2 separate regions of the Homo sapiens genome follow, and region 2 is linked to region 1. The links come from fine-mapping of genetic effects on gene expression. A gene starts in region 1. The other region holds a variant in brackets. All regions are shown on one strand. Distances are from middle to middle.

Evidence for each region. PIP is the estimated chance that this variant, and not a neighbour inherited with it, causes the effect.
Region 2: its variant is fine-mapped to the expression of FJX1 in cerebellum (GTEx, PIP 0.93).

The regions. Positions count from the first base shown.
Region 1 is chr11:35,613,297-35,622,336 of GRCh38, reverse strand. FJX1 (four-jointed box kinase 1) reads right to left here and starts at 3,877. Exons shown (of 1, transcript NM_014344.4): 1 at 1,472-3,877. The coding sequence starts at 3,700. The coding sequence ends at 2,387. RefSeq lists enhancers at 2,288-2,922, 2,923-3,557 and silencers at 3,130-3,399, 3,410-3,669, 3,690-3,759, 3,857-4,018, 3,840-4,169 and 1 more.
Region 2 is chr11:36,121,971-36,131,010 of GRCh38, reverse strand. All of the region lies in intron 4 of LDLRAD3 (low density lipoprotein receptor class A domain containing 3), which reads right to left. Among named protein-coding and RNA genes, the nearest start is that of MIR3973, 120 kb to the right of the region's middle. RefSeq lists an enhancer at 6,982-7,151. The variant C/T (reference allele first, on the strand shown) is at 4,356.

The DNA.
Region 1 (9,040 bases):
AGTCTGGGCTTGGAACTGAAGTTTAGAAAGAATGTAGAGAATGCTGCTGGCCCAGAACTCACCAGTGCTGAATCTTCATGGGATCCAGGATGTATTTCCTGTGCAATCTGTGAAACTTCTAACTTATTACTGCTCATTGTTTTCCTCCATGAATATGTTGGGTAAAAATGCAGGTTGCTGAATACTTGTCCTGTTCTTGGAACAGCCTCCATTAACTAAAGCAGCAAATCTAATAGTGAAATAATCACCAGAAATGGAAAATGTTTCTTTCTGAAAGGTGTAATTATGAGAGGTATCCCATTAACAATGTCTTGAAAAAAGATAAATTTCCGATTATCAGTACATTCTATGGCTGTACTGTGCAAACACTTGACTTACACCACAGAGAGTTTATGGACTATTTTTTTTTTAAGGCTGAGATAAGATTTGGCTTAGCAAAAGGCACTGAAAACATAAGGATGACATTAAATAGTTAAATTACACACTATGTTGTAATGCAGAGTGAGAAGGGGAACCCCCAGAGATTTAATAGCTTCCTGAGTCTATAAAACCCTAGGTTTACAAATGCAAGTCAAATAAAAAACTATTAAAGTTGCAACCAAAAGTTGATTTGAGTTAAAGGTCATTAAATAAAAAGAAGGTAACAGGCAAGATCACTTGGGCCCAGATACCAAAGAAAATGCCAAAATAAAACACCAAGGGCCGTAAAATACAAATCAAGCTCTTCCTCTTGAGATAAAAATCCAAAAATAATTTGTTTGAAGTCCTAGAAAGGGTCCAAATGTCATACACAAAGCACTGTACGCCTTCATGGTCTCACGCTGGCTGCTCTGAGGGGACCATGCACTTAGTACCCAGAAAACAGTACAACCTCTTCAGAGAACTGGATGACTCCAGATGTTGGAGATTATGATCTTCTGAATCCATTGGAATTTATGCCAGGAGATTTAAGAGAAGAATTAATTTATGACTTTCTCTACCTGCTCCCAATGTGGGCTCAGCTTATCATCTGTACACATTGTGATGCACTGTAATTACAACGCTGATAATAATTTGCAACATGTGATCACGGTAGTTAAGTTTAAAAAGGGGGTGTTTGTCATATTTTAGTCCCCACATCTGATTCTATCATATTTGCCAAATGATTAATATAGGAATATACTACAGTGAAATCCTTTCACATCGAAGTTTTATTTGCCAGGAAATAGAACACTTTCCTCCCATCTCTCTCCCCATCTTCCCCCACATTTTAGGCTAAACTCAAATTTCCAGCACCAAGGTTCATCTGAGTGAGGACAGGGAGTCTGCTCTTATCTTTGTTCAATTCTGTAAGTTCCGTAGTCACAACTGGAATGGATATGCATCCTTTGTTTTAAAAACACATCCACAAGAAAGAAAACCTAAATCTTATTCTGAAAGCAGATGGGGCATCAGAAACATCAAACAAGTTAAAACCACAGGAATTAAATTATAAATTTTAAACTCCCTTTTATTGAAATATAAGTTTGTTTAGTATATTTACACCACACTTTATGCACATATATACAGAGAAGGTAAATTCTGTAAAATAAAATTTTTTCTTAATAAAAAATGAAAATCAAAACAAAATAAAGTGCATAAAACTGATTTTTTTTTTTCCTTCTGGTGAACATCATCGTTGTCAAAATTTTGGTCGGTTGCGAGAGGGAGGAAGAAATTCATTATTTGACTTAGTGCATACAGCTGACCCTGAATTTGTAGCCTTCAGGCCAAAATGACAAGAGGTCAGGAATGAGTCAGGCAAATTGTCAAGGTCTGCAGGGCTCCCCAGAGTCTGGAGGTCCTGCTCTCTTTGTCCTATCGCGAGCCGTCCCCCTGCTTGGAACAGTGATCTCACCATCGCGGCGCTGGAACAAAGGGAGAACACAGGAAGGGGGCTCCACCAGCCAATGTCACAGCCCTGCTCCGGGGCCACCAGCGCTCTGTTTGGTAGAAAATTGCAGAATTAGCTCAACGGCTCAAACGCAAGTTTTCCTTTTTCGGAAAGGGAATGAGGGGGGGCCCAAGAATGGGGTGCATCTCCCACAGGGACGGCCACTCGGGGGCCAAACCCCAGTAGCCAGTTTCTTCGGATCCAATCCCCGTGCTGGCACAGTAAAGAATCCTTTTATAAGCTGGGTGGAGAGAATGTTACACTTCTCGCCTCGGTGAGTTCGTCCTCCCAGAACTTTGAAAGGAAACAGCGTGGGATTGAAAGAAAGGGGCAGGTGGGTGAAAAGCTGAAGTTTTTAGACACCTTTGCGGGTGGGCGTTGGCCGGCTGGTCCCTGACAGTGGCAGAGGCGACCGCCCTTCCCCCCATCATCCATACCCCAGCCCCAGATCTCTCTCTTTTCCTCCCGGTGACACTAAGTCCCAGACCGGCGGCCGTACTTGGCCTTACAGTGCAAAATGTGCTTGGCGAGGAAGTCGAGGCGGCGCTGTAGCAGCTGAGCGTGGGGGTCTGCAAGGGCGGCCAGCTCGGGGAAGCGAGGCTCGTGGCGCCGGTAGAGGCGCAGCAGCCGGGCCGCGGCGTCCTGTCCGCGGTGCAGCTCCAGGACGCGCCGCGCGGTCCGCTCGCGGAACACGCACACTGACTGCAACAGCGGCTCGTTATACTTGTCCCACATGCCTGCTACCCGGTAGCCGTGCACCAAGCCCGCCTCATTGTCCAGAAAGACCAGCGCCCCGCCCGGACCGCGGTGCAGGTTGCTGGTGGCACGCTGCATGACGCGCGGGTCCCACTGCAGGCTGAAGAGGTTGCTTACGAGCCGGTCGAAGTTGGCCGTCAGGTAGTCGAAAAGGATTAAGTCGGTCCATTGTACTAGGTCCACCAGCTCCGCCTGGCTGAGGTTGGCCAGCTCACCCCCGGCATCCCGGAGGGGGCGCAGACGGCCGTCCTCCGAGCGCCAGGGCGCGGGCACCACCACGTCCGTGAGGTTGGGCAGCCAGCGTGTCAGGCTCACCACGCTGCCCTCGGTCCAGTGCGCAGCGCGCAGCTCCTCCTGCACCTGCGCCCACTGCGCGCCCCGAGCCTCCACCCGAGCCAGTGCCAGCGGCGGCACGTGGCGCTGGAGGCCCAGCAGGCGCGCCAGATAGTAAGACAGGGCCTCGCCCTGAATCTGCTCCGGGTTGATGCCGTAGCGCACGCAGGCGCGGGTGCCGTCGGCAAAACGGGCCAGTCGGTTGGAGCTGCGCCCGCAACCCCCGCGCTCCAGGGCCACCATCCGGGCGCCGCGAGCCGCCTCCAGCCACGCCGCCGCCTGGGCCTCCGAAAAGCCCGGGGGCACCTGCTCCTCCAGGCCGCGGCTCCAGAAGACGCCCCCGTGCACCGCGGCGCTCTCCTCCGGCCGGGGCTGCCTGGCTGACACGTGCCACCTGGGCTCGCTCCGGGACTGCCGGGGCGGGCCGTCCGCGCCGGCCGCCAGGGTGAGCAGCGCCCGGAAAGTTTTCAGGGAGCCGCCGCGGGCGTCCCACGCCAGGGGCGGGGGCAGAGGGAAGCGAGGCGCGGGCGCGGGGCCGCCGCTCCGGGCCGGGCGCCGTGGGAGTCGGTCTTCGGGCGGCCGGGAGGCGGGCAGCTCGGTCCGCGGCGGCAGGAGCCCTCCCCACAGCGCCAGCAGCGAGCCCAGCGCCAGCAGCCAGAGCCCCGCGGTGGCGGCGGCGCCCCGCATCCTCCTGCCCATGCTCCCGCGGCTGTGCCGGTGCGCCGCCGCCGCTTCAAGCCGAGCCCAGGCACCCGGGTCCCGGCGGCGAGGCGGGCCCGGCAGTTTGTGGGCTCCGGGGCTTCGGGCGCTTCGGCCCCATCGCGGCCGCGGGGCGCTGCGGGGCTCTGTCCGGCGCTCCGCCCGGCGCTGGGAACTCGAGTCCCCGCCGCTTCCCAGCTGCTTTTGTATTTCGCTGTGAGACCCTCCGGTGGGCGCGATTCACAGGCGCCCGGACCACGTGGGAGCCAGGGGGATCCCCCTCCCCCTCCTCCGCCTCCGCTCCCCGCCCCCCGCTCCCCCGCCCCCTTCCTCTCCTCTTCCACTTAAAGCGGCGATGGCTCCTTCCGAGAGGGAGAGGCGGCCCCACACTCGGTCCGGGACTTGGGGGCCTGGAGGAAGCCGGACTGGCTGCGCCCGCGCCGGGGCGTAGGAGGGGGTGGCGCAGAGCCGGAGTCTGGGGCCTGGCGGGAGGGACGCGCCCTGGGCCCTCGCGGGGGTGTCTTGGTCGCCGGGTCCCTTTGCCTAGGCAGCGCGGGTCTCCTGCAAACTTCAGACAGATTTCCACCTCTTTCCGAGCTCCGCCAGGCTAGGATCAGGCAGGGTCCCTTTGCTTTCTCAGTTTCTGTCTGGGTGATTCACGCTGCTTTATGTAAATCTCTGGGAATGTCTCCGAGCCACAGAGGATGTGATTCCAGCGGAAAGAGGAACCCGCTGTAGCCAACAACTTTGAACCGACACTCCCTTTTCCGAGCTCGCACATCAGCACCAATCAGTATTGGCCGCTCTGCCTTTCCCAACGGACTCCCAGGGAATGAAGCCTCGCTGTGCACGTGCCCCTTGAACACCTAGGCCATCTCCCATTCATTCATGCATCCATTCAACACAGCGACTGCCCCTCAGTTCTGGTTCTGCTTACCAGAAGCAAAATCCACAGATCCGGGTCCCAGTGCTGCTGAAATTTACATTCCAGTGGGACTCTCAGGTTGCTAAGAGAGATTATAGCCATCCAACCTCGTGTTGGGGAGAGGGGAGTCAGGGACGACTTTTCGAAAGAAATGATACCGTTTTGTCCATGAGGAAACTGAGGCACAGAGAAGGGATGGGTGTTGCTCAGGATTGCACAATTAGCAAGGGGCGAAGCTAAAAGTCAAACTCAGGTCTCCTGGCCGCATGCACTTGATTTTCCCTCCATTAAGAAAGATCAGTATTTTTTTTTTAATCAAGTCAGCATTCTCAAGTTTGAAATTCACTGTCATTTGACCACTTTGTTCCCCAAATGTGATTTTTCAATTAAAAGGATTTTTCAAATGGAAAGGAAAAAAACCTCAATCCCATACTGCATTTGATTTACTGCTTTTACGATTTAAGGGAAAAAGAAATGGTGGTGGTGGTGGGGGAGGGAGGTGGTGAAGGAGCAAAGAAAACAAAATGAACAACCTCTTCACCCCAACACATCTTCCAGCCACCTCTGGGTTACATTTACCAGGAAAACTTGGATGCCAGTCGGCCCTCCCTTACCTCTCTGTATCAGAATGAGTCCCAGATCCACACTGAGATTCCCAGGGTAGACACAAGATCAGGGGCATGGTGGAATCCACCTCTCAAAGGCCAGAGTTTGAAATCTGTTTCCTTACATGGTGTGTATCTTTTCTCTCCTTTCATCTTCCCATCAGGTGCACATGGGGGTTTTCAACTGGACTACCTCATCAGTTGGCACTGATTATGTTTTATTCTCCAAAGAAAAAACGTTCTAGGGTGATAGAGCGTTCCAGGGTGATAAAGCAGACACTCTTATGTTTATGGCTGAGCAGAGGCATCAAAAAACCACATTTGGAGTATTGCAGCACTGACCCAGGATACAGTCAAGTGTTTTCACTGGTGTGGTTAAGTACATACTGGATGAACTGTTGAATCTGTTCCCAACCACATGGTGGCTATACCATGCCATTTTATAACTCTTATCTGATAATGAGATTACTATGGCTCCCATATGGTTGCATCGAAATATATTAATCCATTCAAAGGTCTTATTTTTTTGGCCTATGTAAGCCCCTCCTCATCTTTCCCTAGCAGGCAGGGACTATGTCTTATTTTTTTATTTCTTATACCACCTAACATAGTATATTACACTAAATAAGCACTCAATAAATTTAATTTTTTTGTCTTTTGGTTTAACTTCTACTGGGATATATATGTATTTATTTGAAAGGCAGCCTCTTTCAGCGTGGGCAAACTATAAGCAAGATCGCCACCTAGTGGGCATAAGTAGAGTATCATCTAATTGGAGAAAAGTAGACATTTTTAACTGGATGATTAATTGTTGAAGTTAAATTCGGAAGACTATTAAATGTCTACTGTGTACCAAGCTATGTCCTAGGGGATATGGAGAAATCCAAAGTAGTTGGGGTCTCTGTCTTTTTGGCTGCTAACAAAAGCTGTAAGTAACTACCATTGTAAACTTCCTGGGGAGTCTGTCTTGTCCATTGTTTTATGGCTGCCTGGGCACAATGCCTGGCACTTAGTGTGTGTTCAACAACAATTTGCTGAATACATCGTTAGAATGCTAATGAGATGCAAGTAGCATGTATCAAGTTTTTTTAAATTAAATACCTTACTACTAAATAATGCAAAACAATTTTGTCCAACGGTTGTGAGTTATTGTTCAGCTGATTAAAGAATACAAAATAAGAACTTCCACTCATTTGAAAAAGAAAAAATATTGGTGAGGGTTTTGCATGATAGATGTGAGGGGAAGCACATGATTTTAATTCTGGGAGGGCTGGCTTCAAATCCAGAGACTAGAAATCCTGGAATCTCCTAACCATATTGCTGGTACTGATGAAAAAAACCCAGACTTAAATAAATTGACTAAGATCGTACACCTCATAAGATGGACTAATTTTATCATTGAGCAGCCCTTTGCCTATAGCCATAGGACTGAATGCATCATGTACCAGAACAGGATGCATTAATTTGTTAAACTTTAACAAATTAATTGAAATGCAGAAATACAGAAAACCAAAGGAACAAACACTGCCCCTTCCTCAAAGTGGAATGCAGTTTTGGAATGGTATTTGATTATTTGAGACAGGGTTTAAAAACATGCCTCTGTTTAGCTGTTAGATGAAAATACTCCCATTCTCCTTTATTTTCTGGACTGAGGACACTCCCCTGCCACCTGTGGCCAAACCACTTTGGCTCTGTGGGGTAGCATAGTTAATCACCTCAGTCACTTCTGCCCTCTGGCAGTTGCTTGGGGATGAGAAATCCATTTGCACTTTTATGACTTTCTTAATACTCCTTAGAATTTATCCCTGAGCCTGAACTTCCAATATCTTCAAACTTTTCCACAGTCCTGTTTGAAGAATGATCTGGTTCATGTAATGGTGCCTCCTGGGGGAAAGAGAGGAGGTGGAGTTGAGGGTTGGAAGCAGGGGAGGAGGCTTGGAATTGGAATATTTTCCAAGTCTGGCATTAGCACTTTCTGGCTTGTTCCTTGTTCTAGTTATTTACTTTCTGTGAGTTTCAGTTTCAGAACCTGAGAAATAAGTTAATAAATCCTTCCTAACTCACAGGGTTGTCATGCAGCTCAAGTGAAATATTAATAATAACCACAGCATCAGTGGCAGCAAACACTTATTGAACTCTTATTATGGGCTCGGTGTGGAGCTAAACCCTGCATGTGCTTTATCTCATGAAACCCCCCCAAAAGTATTATTATACCCACTTTACAGATGGGGAAGTGGAAGCTTAGCCAATCAGTGGAATGAGGTCATGCAGCAAGGAAGTGGCAGGGCTGCGATTCCAAAATGATGGGGACCAAACCTTTTGTAAATTATAAACTGCTAGGGAAATGTCAGGTGCAGAAATTATTACATTAAATCAAAATAGATTCAACTGAGATGAAATTTTGGTTTCATGTGTTCTCTGGGGTTTGTTCCCAAGTGAAATGGTTAAGAGTGTGAACTGTCAAGCCAGATTGTCTCATTAAAACCCAGTCCTGCCACTTACCAGGCATGTGACTTCGGGTAAGTTACTTAACCCCTTTGTGCCTCAGTGTATATATCTGTAAAATGCAATAAGAACAGTATTACTAGTATTACTAACAAAAATTATAACAATATACAATATCTCATGATTACTAGTAATAGGAACAAATCTTATAGATTATTGTGATGATTAAATTAGTGCTTATATTTAAAGTGCTTAAAAGAGCATCTAAGTGTTCACTATAGTATAGCTGTTGTTGTTCTTTTTCCTTTCTATTTCCTTTCTATTTCACTGTTTCAGTGCTCAGATGGGGATGTCTTCCTTCTCTTGTTGCTGTCCTCCACCAAGTCTCACTTGGTCTTGAGAGACCTAATACAAGTGGTGTTCCAGCTCAATGCACCTGCTTTATGCCTGAAATGGTGTCTTTCCTGATAATTTTGCAATATTTCTTCCCCATGGAGCTGGACCACCTGGCTTCTACCAAGGTTCCCAGTGTAACTCTTGTTAAATGCCCAGAGCCTCCAGCCAGCCTCGGGCAGACAGCTTCTGGCTTCCTCTCACTAGTCTGCCTCCTTCAATCCTGACCTTTTCTGGATCTCCTGAGTTATAAGCCCCTGGAAAAGACAGAGGCGTCCAAATGTACCCTTCCACGTGCTTCTACAAAAAGGAAGAGAGGGGACAAAAGATGTCAGAGATGAGTATAATATTCCATGGAAGTGGTATGACTCCTACATTGGCCACTACTCTTTGACCCTGGGGAGTTTTCTAACCCCCTGGGCTATAATTTTATTATGTATGTATCTCTGTTACGGACTGAATGTTTGTGTTCCTCCTTGCACCATAAATTAATATGTTGAGATCATAACTCCCAATATGGTGGCATTAGGAGGTAGGGCCTTTGGGAGGTGATCAAATCATGAGGGTAGAGCCCTCATAAATGAGATTAGTGTCCTTATAAAAGAGACCCCAGTAAGCTCTCCAGCTCTGTTTTCATCATGTGAGGACCCAGAAAGAATACCGCTGCCTATGAGCAAGGAAGAGTAGCCCCACTAGACACCCAGTCTTCTGGCACCTTGATCCTGGACCTCCCAACCTCTCTCTCTCTGTCTCTCTCTCTCTATATGTAGATAGATAGATAGATATCTCTATCTATCTATCTATCTATCTATCTATCTATCTATCTATCATCTATCTATCTATGTATCTATCTATATATTTTTTTTTGAGGCAGAGTCTTGCTCTATCACCCAGGCTGGAGTACAGTGGCACAATCTCGGCTCACTGCAACCTACACTGATTTTCTTGCCTCAGCCAATTTTCTTGCCTCAG
Region 2 (9,040 bases), 510 kb before region 1:
GAGATGCCTGGTCTCACCTGGGTTGTGACGGGTACCAGGTAGAGGCTTCTGGCCACCAGCAGGGTTAGATAAAGACATTAGGATCCTGAGAATGGGAGGCAGTCCATGAAAGAGATAGTGCGCACTGGACTTGGACTGAGAGAGGCCTGGGGCTGAATTCCAGATTCCAGAGCTGGCTCCTTCCAGTAGAGTGAACCTGGGCAACTCTCTCAGCCTCAGCCTCTACCTACCACTGCCAAGTGGGGATGATGATAATAGCTCCTCAACCAGCTGCTGTGAGGACTACGTGGGCTGATCTGTAAGAAGGACCTAACATTAACATAGTGCCTTGATGAAGCCTGAATGACTCGCACAAAGCAGGCGCTCAGACCAGGGTTGAGGAGAACAGGGGAGCTGGAGGGGCTCGGAGTCATCACTATCTTAGCAGAAGTGGTTGCTGCTTTGTGGATAAAACTGGCGGCAGCTTGCCCCAGCCCTGCGAGTCATTCAGGCTTCATCTGGGCAAGGAAGCATTCCCTCCAGCCTTCTGCCCTCCAAACTTCCTTCCGAACCTTTTGATGGCCTCACGCTGTCCTGAGGATCAAGGCTGGGATCTTAATACTTTTTCTAAAATCCAGCCCCTTCCAGCCCCCGTGGACACATCCAGACAAGCCTCTGCACACTTCATTTGTGAGTTCTATCCCGTCAGCCCCATTCTCTTTACCTTATGCCCTCACAAATGCTGCTCCCTCCACCGGGAAGACTCTTCTCTTCAGGGTCTTATCACCCTTCAGGTCTCAGCCAAATGCCCCTTCCTCAGGGAAGCCCACCGTGCTACTATCGTGTCCTACACTTTTCCTTACACGAATCATCACACTTGAAATTGCCTGTTCAATGCCTGTCTCTCAACTCTTCAGTGAACTGTAAGCATAGGGTCTCAGCTGATAAAAGCTAGCCATTACTATTACTATCCATTCAACAAATATTGACTGAGCCCCTCCTGAGTTCCAGGCACCACTATGGGGGCTGAGGATACTGCAATGAACAACAAACAAAACACGGAAGTTCCCTCCTGGAGCTTTTATCTTACAGAGGGAGACTAGCAAACAACAAGAATGAATGTAAGGACAGTGTACACCCAGTGGTGATAAATACTACAGAGAAAAATATAGCAGGGAAGGGAAAAGATGCAGTTTGATAGAGGGTGGTCAGGGAAGGTCTCACTGAGCAAAGACCCAGAGGAGGTGGGTGGATTGGGGAGAGTGTTGGGGGTGGTGAACATTCCAGGCAGGTTTTAGGGCCAAGAAGGAGGCTTAGGGCAGATGTTTCAGCTGGGATGCCTCCTTCCACATTTTCTGACTGCCTCAGAGCAATGATCAATTGCATGGCCTCTCTATGCCCTAGGTAAGGGAATCCACGCAACAACCTAAGTCATGCCTGTGGCTCCCGGGAAGGGACCTGGCACAAAGGACGATTTATAAAATCTGAGTGCAGAACATCCCTTGGGGTCCCAGCAAGGTCGGATTTGATACTGGCTCACCTCCTCTGAAGGGACTCTGGGACAGGACCATTCCTAGTTCCTCGTTCAACTTTCATATTGGCCTTCTAGGTTGGCACAGGCTATTGGAGATGAAGGCTCTGGGGCTGATTTCACAGGGAATCCCAGACCACATACCTCTGCTCAATGTTCGAATCAGCAAAACACCAAGTCCTGCTTGCAGCAGCCTCTGCCATCGACAGTTGCAAGCCAAATCCTTTGGGTTTTGTTTTTGTTTTAGAAAGGACTTAGAAAAGGGCTAATAGTGTTCTTCTCAGAAGCAGGCAGAGAACAAATGCCATATGCTCTTCTAAATTAACCTTCCCACACAATGACCGGGACATTTCTATCTGGGAAGGTCTATTAAATCTCTCGAGCTGGAGGCAGGGGCTGGTTCCCTCATCATTATTCCTCTCTACTCCCCAAACATCAAATCTAGTATTGAGACCTGTACTTCTACTTCCCTGACATCTCTTGACTTTGTCCATTTCCCTCCATCTCACAGGGAAAGCCACCACCATCCCTCATGTAGACTACAAAGGTAGCATCCCAGCCAGTGTCTCTCTACTAACCTTGGCCTCTGCCCATCACTGTTCCACCGATGCTAGGGTGATTTTTCTTTTCTCTCTTTTTTTTTTTTTTCCTTGAGACACAGTCTCACTCTCTTACCCAGGCTGGAGTGCAGTAATGTGATCTCCACTCACTGCAACCTCAGCCTCCTGGGTTCAAGCGATTCTCCTGACTCAGCCACCTGAGTAGCTGAGACTACAGGTGCCTATCACCACACCAGGCTAATTTTTGTATTTTTAGTAGAGATGGGGTTTCACCATGTTGCCCAAGCTGGTCTTGAAGTCCCGACCTCAGGCAATCTACCCACTTCAGCCTCCCAAAGTGTTGGGATTACAGGCATGAATCACCGTGCCCAGCCTAGAGTGGTTTTTCTGATTAAAAACTGGATTGTAGTTCTGCCCTTTGGGCTCCCCACTGCTCTCGAGATAAAGTCCAATTTCCCAGGTGCACGGGCTTCTACAGTCCTTTATGATGGCACCCTCTGGCATCTCTACCCACGAGTCCCAGGGGGAGCATCTGTGCATGGTGGTTTGGTAAGCTTCACTTGTTGAAGCATCCAGCACAAGGCTGGGCAGAAGAAATTGCGGTTAAATGCGTGAGATGGACCAATATTCTCCAGCTAGCAGGAGGCAGAGGAGCTCCCTGTCCCTGGGCCAGACCCCTATGGGGAGGGTATTTATACAGATGCTGATTAATTGTTTGCCTACACACAGTATTACAAACAAACAGGGAATTAATTCTTCATCTTTCAGTTCCCATTCTAAGTTTAATTGCCTACATGTCATATACATATATATATATATATATGTAAAAACAACTCTGCCATCAATACGCAACAGTTGAGTTATGAACCTCCCGGCCACCTGATGCCTCAGATCAGTGAGTGTGGGGTAGCTCCTGCCTCCTCGGTGTACATCCACCAGGAGGAGGCTGCTTTGGGGAAACAGCTGGAGAAATTCCCAACATATATCTTTGGAAGGGCATTAAAACACCTCAACTGGTGGACCTTTGACCCAGGGAAAGTAAAGGCAAGTGCATATTTTGGGTACCTGCAGAAGAACAAAAAATACAATACTAGGTAATAAAACAGTGATTCAGAGCATGAGCTTTGGAATCAAATTCTTACAAGCTGTGTGATCTTGGGCAGGTCACTTAACCTCTCTGAGCCCTTACATCCTAAACTGATATGAAGCAGATTTGAGGAGCAAATGACATAACCTAAATAAAAAACTTAGCATGGTGGCTCAGACATGGTAAGAAGTCTACTCAGGTTAACTAACATTATAGCTTTACCTACTGTTACTTCTGATGTAGGAGCAAAAACTGTTGTCAAAGCCTCTGTATCACAACAATAAGACTAACCCAGCAGCATCAAGCATTTCTTGAGTACCTACTATGTTCCAATCCTGTTCTAAGAATTTCACAAATATTAATCACATCTTCCTAAAAATAACCTAACAGGCTAGTACCCCAATTTTACAGATGGTGAAACTGAGACAAAGTGAGATTTAAGGAACCAGCCAGGATTAAACAGCATGTACTATATAAATTCAAATATATAAGTGAAAAACACCTTCCTCTCAGTACTGTTTTATTGTGTAACTTTCACCATAAACTATTCATAATTGATAATCCTTCAAACCTCTGTTTAACCCCAATTCCATATGCAAATCTGTAGTTTTATTATATTAATATTTCATTATATAAACAATAAAGTAAAGACATTCCTTAAACCTGTATCTTTAGCTTCTAACAGTCATTTTTTTGCAGTCTTCTATATTAAGATTGCAAGATCAAGTGTTGACAAGAATACAGGTGTTGGTTATTTTTTAATGCGTGTCTTTCTTTCAAAACACAACAGTAATGTGCTCAGTGTAAAAAACTGAAAAATGGGCAAAACCAGACATTAAATTCTCTACAATCCACCACCAGGGATGACCACTGCTCACATTTGTTGAATTTTCCTTTTGGGCTGATTCTGCACAATTTTGTTTACACAGTCGAGTTCACAGGATGCACTTGCTCGGCAGTGGGTTTAACTCTGGGTGATTATGCATGTTCTAATTACTTAGCCATTCAGGACACCCACTGGTCTTACAACATAGGTTCTCTGCAGATTATAACTCCACAGAGTTCTTTCTTCCTTTCAACAGAAATTAAAAAGGAAATTAAAGCCACAGACATACCAAATAACACCAGGAACACTGGAGTTCCCGGAGACTAAAAATCAAAAGGCAACTTAGACCACCCAGCATCCCATTATTGCATA[C/T]GTGAATGAGCTTCCACTGAAAAACCCAAACAAGGCTGATAGCCCTGATGGATGATCCGGGCTCCAGACTCCGCTGCCCCAAAGGCACAGCCAACAACTGGCTTCTTCTGGGGACCAGCCTCCCGACCCTGACCACACCGAAGGCCAATCCTCAACCTCTTCCCTGCATGCTGGAATTGGCTGAAATGGGGCTGGCAGGGGTCTTGGTGATAACTTACTCTCTCCAATAAGAGATCTGAGCATATTGATTACATTAGGAGTGATTACAGTGGGATAAAAGAAACCCTGCTCTTGGTGGGTGTAAGCCTTGATTTAGGAACAGGGCACAGGGCTGGAGAAGGTAAATGGTGCCTGATGAGCAGATTCACGCCCAGGAACTGAAGGACAATGCAGTGCCCTTGAGAGGCCAGCAGAGATAGGTGATGAGGGGGCGGGCAGTGCAGGCAGCGGGGACCAGCAGCAGACAGAAGCAAGGCATCGGGAGCAGTGGTGGGGTTCTAACGCTTCCTGCGGGATCCTGCCAAAGGAGAACCAAAGGCAAGAGGAGAGCAGAAAGCAGGACTGAGCCCTCCAAACAGCACTGTACGTGAAGGGTGGGGAGGAGCATCGCAGGCGCAGATCACAATGTGCAGACTGACTTCCTGGTTCCACAGTGTCTCCAAATCGGCCTCATTTGTCCCTGGTGGGGTCCCAGCATAAGCCTACAGCTTCTCTATCAGCTGCCTTCCAAGGGGGGTAGCCTTTTGCAGCAGATCAGGTTGAGGGGGTTATGGGAGGGGACGGAACAGGACCATAGAGCCTACCAGCCACACCCTCCATGTGGCTTGAAAACATCTTGTGCACTGCAGGAGCAAGAAGACACCATTCTCCACCACCAAAACTCTGTCCACCTCCACCAAAATAACTTACGGAATCACAAAAAGTGGTCTCCCAAATCTGTTCACCTTACAGCACTGTTTGGGCAGTTGGGTGCCGAGTAGTGGAGATCAGCACACCTTAAAGAACAACCCTTTGATCACCGTGTCATCTCAGATGGAGCAGTCTCACACTGAGCTTACAAACTCACCCCATCGACCAGCTGAGGCCTGTTTACCCTTCTGCGATTAGAAATTCATTCATCCATTCAACAAACATTGACTATCTACTATGTGCTAATGATTTTAATCATGATGACTAACAGCAGTGAAACATGTACTGCTTGCTGCGTATTAGGCACTGTACAAAGCATTTTTATGTCTTAATTCATTCTACACAACAATATCATTATTCCTATTTTACAGGCAGAGAAAACGAGGACAGAAAGAGAAAGTCATCCGCCTAAAAGTCACATAGTCGACAATAAGTGGCAGAGCTGGAATTTGAACCCGGGAAGTTGCTTTCAGAGACCATGCTCTAATGCACTCTACTGCCTCTGTGTACCAGGATCTAGGTACACATAAGTGAATGAAACAAGTATGATCCCTGCTTACATGGAATGCACAGATCAGAGTGCAGACCCACAATCATAAAGGCACAACTGATAAGTATGATAACTGCCCTGGAACAAACACTCTGGACACTGTGAACAATAATACTAAGGGTGAGGAGGGAAACAGCTAAGGTAGAACGGGTGACCTTGCAGGAACACAGTTCTAGGCAGAGGTAACAGCACCTGCAAAGACCCTTAAACAGGAAAGAGCTTGGCATGTCTAAGAAATGGAAATGAGGAGGTCAAGGCAGGCAGATCACTTGAGGCCAGGAGATCAAGACCAGCCTGACCAACATGGCGAAACCCCGTCTCTACTAAAAATACCAAAATTAGCTGGGCATGGTGGCACAAGCCTGTAATCCCAGCTACTCGGGAGTCTGAGGCATGAGAATTGCTTGAACCCAGGTGGCAGAGGTTGCAGTGAGCCAAGATCATGCCACTGCACTCCAGCCTGGGCGACAGAGTGAGACTCTGTCTCCAAGAAAAAAAAAAAAAAAGAAAGGAAAAGGAGACTAGCGTGCCGGACAAGGTGGAGGATACCAGGAGAAGATGTGCTTGAAGACCAGTTAGAACATACAGGGTATGTAGTCTGTGGTAAAGGGTTCAGATTTCACTCCAGGTGCAGTGAAAAAACTCCCAAAATACCCACCTTGCAGAGCCCAGTTGGGAGAGCCGTGGTTAAGGGAATCACCAGGCTACCCCAAGCTGTGTGACTTTTGTCAAATGAGTTCATCTCTCTGGGTCTCACTACCCTTATATGTAAAACAGGAATAAGAATACCTACCTTATAGGGTTGTTTTATTAAAAAAGTCAGTTACAAATGCTACCTATGCTAGTGCCTGGCATATAGTATATTGCTTCCATGATACTTGGTAGCCTCAGCCTCCACAAACTCCAAGTTTTCTCCATGTATTCAATAGCCTTCCTATTTTAGTAGGGGAAGTGAGACTGATAAGGGTAGAGACAAAAAGGAGAAGGAATGAGGCCAAATTAATTTGTGATCAATACTTCTTGTAGCTATTACGGTGACAGGCACCAGATAAACACAAATAGAGCTGAAGACCAGCTTCTCTGCCAGCTGTTGCCATCAGTTGCTTTGGACAATTATGCAGGCAAATGCATAACCTTTATATAATTAAGCATTCCCTGACATCTTATTTGCAGCTCTTCTTTTTTCATCCTCCCCCTTTTATTTAGTCTGCTTTCAGTTGTGAAGGTCCAGCTGCCGGCTTCACTCGGATGCGCTGACTTACGGTAATTTTGAGTTAAGCTTTATTTTACAGTCTATGTAAATAATGAGGCGGAGGCAGACTCAATAAAAGGCAGCCTGGCTTCAGCCAATATTCAACTCTACAGCCACAGCCGGACTTTAGGAGTCCGGGTGGTTGGCACAGACCCTCGGACAAGAGTCAGGGGGTCGGCACTGTGCCACAGCCTGGCTGGACTCCTGGAAAACAGGACATCTGCCAGGCCAAGGGGCAGACATTTGTGGCTAGGGCCTACTCCCCCTCCAAACTTCACTGTGAAAGAGGCATAACTGTTTCCAATTCTTCACCCTTTCCACACCCGTGCACTTGGCCATGCCACCTTGCAGCCTCTCTGGCTGGAGATAGAATATATTTATCTGCCCCACTGATCTTGGGCTTGGTCATGTGACTTACCTTGGGGTCAATGGGACAAATGAGCAGATGCTTAAAATATGCTTATAGAGCTGGGCTTGCGATTTTGTACTTCTAATACTGCCAGGAGAAAACCATGCTGTGGGGCAGCACATTGCTCCCAGGAGAAAGAAAAGCAGGTAGGGCAAACCTGCACCAGCTTGTAGAATGGAGCTAAGCTTGGTGAGCTACGATTAGCTGAGCTCTAGGCTGGGTTCAACTCTTGTGTTGCACACATCATATTACATTTAAAAATAAGCACTGATGGTTACTCATTTGAAAGTATCTGCTGAATACTTATTATGTACCACACTTTTATTATTATTATTATTATTATTATTTTGAGACGGAGTCTCGCTCTGTCGCCCAGGCTGGAATGCAGTGGTGCCATCATAGTTCATTGCAGCCTTGACCTCCTGGGCTCAAGTGATCCTCCCACCTCAACCTCCCAAGCAGTCGGGACTACAGGCATGTGCCATCATGTCTGGCTGATTTTTAAATTTTTGTTGTTGTTGTTGTAGAGACAAGGTCTCACTGCGTGGCCCAGGCTGGTCTCAAACTCCTTAGCTCAAACAATCCTCCCACCTCAGCTTCCCAAAGTGCTGGTATTTATTACAGGCATGAGTCACTTTCCTAGCCTTGTATGAAATTTTATTTTATTTATTTATTTAAAAATTGAGATAGGATCTCGTTATGTTGCCCAGGTTGGTATTGAACTCCTGGGCTTAAGCAATCCTTCTGCCATGCCCTCCCAAAGTGCTGGGATTACAGGCATGAACCATCACACCAGGCAGTACCATGAGTGCATAGAAAAGGAAGCAAGCAGTTAGATAGGAATTATCTGTTCACAAGTTTATCTCCTTCACTAGACTACAGGCTCCTAGGGGCTGGGGATGGAGTTTTTTCCTTTTGGTTTCCCAGCACCTAAAACAGTTCCTGCTTAATAATAATAGTAATTATTATTGTTATCATCATCGTCATGCAGTAACCACAGAACGAATAATTGCAGTGTCTATTTATGGAGTCCTACCATGTGCCAAGCCTGTGCTAAGCTCTTTACCAACGTTATTACACTTGATAGTCACAATTAAGGAGATGAATCCTGTTTCCATTTTTCAGATGGAAAATCTGAGGCTTGGGGAGGTGGCTTCATCAGTTCCTAACCCTCATGTGTACAGCACAAGCCCTTCCCACTTCTCCCCCTGCACTGAGCCTCCAAATCCTTGACCACTCTGTTCTGGATGGCATCTACAAATTGTTCATGCCCATCCTTTTGCTTCCTCGCTTGGGCACACAGCACAGCCCTTCCTCATCATTTTCTGCTTGTTTACTTGTTCCTTTGGTCCCCCAAACCAAACTAAGAACCTCAGGTAAAAATCCTAAGGTGCATGGATTGTGTCTGTGGAAGGCATAGTTAAGAGCTTGGGCTCTGAGGTCACAAGAGTGTGGGTTCGAATCCTGGCTCTGCCATTTACTGGATGACCTCATGCCTATCCCATTGTCTCCCTTAACCTCACTTTCCCCTCCTGTAAAATGGGGATTGTGATAATAGAAATAAC